Linked DNA regions of Homo sapiens: region 2 is linked to region 1. The links come from fine-mapping of genetic effects on gene expression. Tissue or cell type: whole blood. Region 1 holds a variant in brackets; the other region holds the start of a gene. All regions are shown on one strand. Distances are between the middles of the regions.

Evidence for each region. PIP is the estimated chance that this variant, and not a neighbour inherited with it, causes the effect.
Region 2: KRT10-AS1 starts here. The variant in region 1 is fine-mapped to the expression of KRT10-AS1 in whole blood (INTERVAL, PIP above 0.99). The same link has a PIP of 0.9 or more in NK cells.

Annotation. Positions count from the first base shown.
Region 1 is chr17:40,874,923-40,877,688 of GRCh38, forward strand. It overlaps KRT20 (keratin 20), which reads right to left. Exons shown (of 8, transcript NM_019010.3): 7 at 2,458-2,495; 8 at 967-1,536. The coding sequence ends at 1,439. All of the region lies in intron 1 of LOC105371777 (a long non-coding RNA gene), which reads left to right. Among named protein-coding and RNA genes, the nearest start is that of KRT20, 8.9 kb to the right of the region's middle. The variant C/T (reference allele first, on the strand shown) is at 1,221.
Region 2 is chr17:40,817,658-40,820,177 of GRCh38, forward strand. KRT10-AS1 (KRT10 antisense RNA 1) reads left to right here and starts at 1,488. Exons shown (of 3, transcript NR_160888.1): 1 at 1,488-1,551. KRT10 (keratin 10) reads right to left here. Exons shown (of 8, transcript NM_000421.5): 5 at 2,392-2,517; 6 at 1,860-2,077; 7 at 1,130-1,504; 8 at 460-825. The coding sequence ends at 819. RefSeq lists an enhancer at 1,998-2,520.

The DNA.
Region 1 (2,766 bases):
AATCCCACTTATTTGCAACTTCTGTATCAAGTTTTAAGTCCAATCTATTTACTGGAATACAATGATTTAGCACACATTGATTTTTCCCATAAACATTCATATGCAATGATTGCTCACTAAAATGCAAAAAGGGTGAGGATACAATATGTGTTTTTATTGTTTTTGGATTTGGCTTCTTTCACTTAGCATGTTTTCGAAGTTCATCTCTGTTATAGCATGTATCAGTACTTCATTCCTTTTTATTGACGAATAAGATTCTATTGTGTGGATATATTACATTTTGTTTATCCATTCATCGGTTGATGGACACTTGAGGTGTTTCGCTTTGGGGCTTTTATGAGTAATGCTGCTATGAACATTTGTGTATAAAAGGACACATCGTATTAACCTATTTATATGAAATGTCCAGAGTAGGCAAATCCGTAGAGACAGGAAGTAGATTAGTGGTTGTTAGGGGCTGGGAGGAAGGGAAAAGGCGGTGACTACTAATAGGTACAAGATTTCCTTTTGGGGTGATGAAGTGTTCTAAAACTAGATAGTGGTGATGGTTGCAAAACATTGTAAGCATACTGAAGACCACTGAATTGTACGTTTTGTAAGGGTGAATTTCATGGTGTGTGAATTATATCTCAATAAATCTGTTATTAAAAAAATGAGAGACATTTCATTAAAAATATATGTTCACCATATAAAGAAAGAGAGGACCTGATAGTATATGCAGCTTATTATCAAAAGGAGACACATTTTGCCTTGAGAAGGGTTTCAGTAATGTTGTTTTTAATCTATTTCCATTTTAAGTATAGTGTACTTCACTCTTATTCTGCTCAGCATTTGTGATTGAATTTGACTCTCAAATTATTCAAAAAGCTGTGTTGAGTTTTAAAAGGCAGTGGAAGCAATGGGAAAAAGCAGATATAGCTCAAAGGTTGTAGAGTTGTACTGATGCTGAAAAATCAATAAGATTAACCCAGAAATTGGCTCAATAAGAAACCAGGGACTCCCAAAGGGGGTTTTACAATTCAGAAACAGGAAAAAATTAGAAAGTGGTTTATTTGCAATTTACATGGATTCCTCTACTTTGTGAGGTTTAGTATAATTGAAATGTATTGCAATTTTCAGGAACATTACCTACAAATTGATATTAGGTGGTCTACAGCTTGTAATTGATGTGCTTCATGATAAAGATGGCAGTAATGATGTTTTAAATATTCTAGTGCTCA[C/T]TGGATTTCATTTTTGCAGGCAATTTGCAGCTCCTCTGAGTAAAACATTTATATTCAATTACAGAGTCTGATAAATAGGATTCCCGCCACCCCACCCCTTCTAATCACTGCAGAGTATTAATAGTGCTTTCTTATGGCTGATTTCTTGCAGGGAGCAAAGATAAGATTATAGCCAAATTTCTTTCAAAACCTCAGCAGCATCTCCTTCTGGTAGCTATTTAGATATTTTCTTCCACCTCTTTGACTTCAGATGACACGACCTTGCCATCCACTACTTCTTGCACGACTGTCTTAATCTTCCTGGTTTTCTTTATATCTGAATTCATATTAAACATTAAATGTTAATTCAGGCACATGACTCTGCTGATTTATAATATTCAACTTTAAATTATTATTCTTTTTACTTATTTCCTTCTTTTAGAAAAATATGTTAAACCCATCCTCTTTCTCAAAAAATCTTAAGTCCATTTTATAAATAGATGCAGAAAATGTGCTTCTCCCCAAATTTACAAATGTCCTACTCTTAAAAATTCAAGAAATAAATTATCTTGAATTTAAGTGGAATTCAAATTTTGTCTTGTTTTTCCTTTTCAGGATGTCAGGATGTTTCAAGATAGCAATAGCACAGGCCAAGAAAATCACCCCATTCTGAGGAGTGTGCCCAAGTTCCCATGTGGAGGGTTTCTTTATGCCATGTACAAGATTTTTAGAATCCCTGGTGTCATATCTGCTCCCTTGAGAATTGGCCTTTGCTATGGTTTGAATGTGTTCCCTGGAGTTCATGTGTGGAAAACTTAATCCCCAATGTAACAGTGTTGGGAGGTGCGGCCTAGTAAAAGGTGATTAGATGATGAGGGCTCTTCTCTCATGGATGGATTAATGTGGTTACCATGATAATGGGTTAGTTATTGTGAGAGTGGGCTAGTTCTAAAAGAAAGATTAGCCTCCTCTTGCTCTCTGGTTCTCATGGACACTCTTTTGCACTTCTACTTTCTGCCATGGGATGACACAGCAAGAAGGCCCTTACAAGATGCCGGCACCTTGATATTGGACTTTCTGGCCTCCAGAACTGTGAGCCAAGTAAACGTCTATTGTTTGTAAATTATCCAGTCTCAGGTATTCTGTCACAGCAGCAGAAAACAGACTAAAACAGCCTCACTTTACTTTTTATCAGTGGCATGTAGTTAATAGAAAGCAGCTGAATGTCATAGAAAATGTGCAAAAATTTAGAACTTACCTCTCTCTTCCAGGGTGCTTAACTGATATTCTGTAGTTCTGTTTTTTTTTTTAATGAAAAGAAGAAAAAAGAAACAGAAAAAAGCATTATTGCTGTTTTGAAAATGGAATGCACTCCTGTCTTTTATATTTCAAAGTCCAAGTGAATGTGTTATTGCTTTCATATATCTTTCCCTTTTACATTGCTTTTATTGCAAACTTGAGCATTTTACTTTTTAACTTGAAAAATACATAGATTTAAAACTGACCAGTTTAATATATGCTAAGAAGTTCCTCTAATTAAAATAACAAAATTACAATGGAAGTTTAA
Region 2 (2,520 bases), 57 kb before region 1:
GTTGGGGGTGATATGATTTTACTTGGGTGGTGTCAGAAGATATGTCAAGCTATATAACAATTGGGAAGAAGTAATATAGTAACTGGAAGAAAGTAAGAAAAGGCAAAGGTGAGAAGTCAGGTAATTAGAAAATATAAAATTTCCAATTATTATTATTTTGGGGGTTTTATTTGAGATATTCCAGAATTTCCAGGATTGAAATAATTTAAAGCCAGAGAGCTGGGAGCCTTCCACATATTGTGTATCTTAAAGAGTAATATTGGGGATTTACAGACTTTACTCAGTGAATTTACTGACGGTGGTCTGAACATACATGATTAAAAAACTTAGAAAAGGCATGACAATAGTTCTGTCTTCCGAATTTCTGGATACATCAACCTTCAACTGCTATGGGTTACTAATCTTTAATTTTAAAGAGTATTATGTACTTAAGTAAAGATAAATTCTGACAAATTGGGATAGTTTGCATCAGTAAGAAAGTTTATTGAAATTCATTAGTAAATGAGAACAGAAAGTTGTTTTTCTTTCCATTAAAGAACACTTTCTGGTAAAGTGAAAAGAAGAAATACAGAAACCACAAAACACCTTGTAGACACCTTATTTTCAAGGTCTATTTCCATAGACCATCAAGACAGAAGTGTTTTCTTGGAGACTTTGTTTTCCATGCATCTGTAAATAATGGTCTGTGTGAAGGGAGACTCTTTCCTCTTGATGCAGTTTAATAGTAGTGTTTCTTGGTTTCTGATTCAACCATAGATGAAAGAACTCTACCGTCGGGCGCCACCTCTTCAATAATTGTCTTGATTACTCTGGTTTTGTTAGTATCTGTGTGAATGATGGAAAAAAAATTTTAAACAGTCTGTAGGGATCCTTAGTAATTAACAAGCAAATATTGTAAAAAGAAGGAAATTTCAACTTTACATTGTTAAGCCCAAAAAAATGCTTAAGGTATGACATTTTGATCATGCCATTTTTCACGGCTGGTGTTAAGAGTAGTTTGTGAACAAATGCAAACGGAACCGTCTCTAAGATTTTTAATTTTTTAAAACAACTCTAGAGCTTAAAGCGCAAAAAAACCATCACAGGAAGTTAAAACTAATTCTGATTACCCCAGCTAGTTTCTGCTGACCTTGGTCCCTTAGATGAAGACTCGCCCACGGACCCGGAAGAGGAGGACTTGTGGCCTCCGCTGGAGCTGCCGCCGCCGTATCCGCCGCCGGAGCTGCTGCCGCCGCCGGAGCTGCCGCCCCCGTAGCCGCCGCCGCCGCCGCCGGAACTGCCACCACCGTAGCCGCCGCTGGAACTGCCGCCGTGGCCGCCGCTGGAGCTTCCGCCCCCGTAGCCGCCGCCGGAGCTTCCGCCGCCGGAGCTTCCGCCTCCGTAGCCGCCGCCGGAACTGCCGCCGTGGCCGCCGCCGTGGCCGCCGCCGGAGCTTCCGCCGCCGGAGCTTCCGCCGCCGTAGCCGCCGCCGAAACTTCCGCCGCCGCGTCCGCCGCCTCCGGAACTAAACGGGGTGAGGTCACATTCGGTTATCTCTAACGTTGGAAAACGGTGGGTAGCTTTCCAGTTGCCGTTAATTTAGAAAATAAGCAAAACGTGTTGAAAAAATAAAACCCTGCCAGGTATATATTTTAAAACCCATCCTTTGAAAACAATGTTAAGTTCACAGAACTCTTAAGAATCATTTTGGGCCAAATTCATGAGAAAGTGAGATTGCGGTTGCGTACTCCTTTTTCTGTACTCTACCCTCTCTCCTCCCTTCCTCTCATTCTCTGGCATCTTCTTGGGGTTTAGATAAGCCTTGCTATCTGGAATATTGAATAAAAGAAACTGGGATAACTTTTCATTTTAAAATTTACCTTCCCTCTCCTTCTAGCAGGCTGCGGTAGGTTTGAATTTCATTCTCCAGTCGGATCTTAATATCCAGGAGTTGTTGGTATTCAGTATTCTGGCACTCGGTTTCAGCTCGAATCTGTTGCAACTGTTCTTCCAGAGCGGATATCTGGGCCTGAATCTGTGAGAGCTGCACACAGTAGCGACCTTCTGTTTCTGCCAAGGAGGCTTCCAGGGATTGTTTCTGAAACGGATTTTTTTGTGGCTTAGTGACTTCCTTGTTCAGTTGAGTATGGTGACGCTTATTTGATTATTTAGTAAGGCATTATATAGAAGAATAAGAAAATGAACAGAATTTGTTGTATGTTTAATGGCACCATTTCAGTTTCAGCACTTTTAGATCAACACTAGTAGTACTTTTCCTCCATTAACATGAGCTTCACTTTGTTTTCTCTTTCTTACCTCCAACTCTGCATTTTTTTGTTGCATTGCATATTCTTAGGTGAGCATGAAACTTTGTATGATAAAGTTGAAGTCATTTCATGAGAGTTAACATACCAAGGCCAGTTGGGACTGTAGTTCTATCTCCAGAGCTTGTACATTACGTCTCAATTCAGTAATCTCAGATTTATAGCTGGATATCTGTTCAATGTTATTATCAATTTCTGTAGTCAGTTCCTTGCTCTA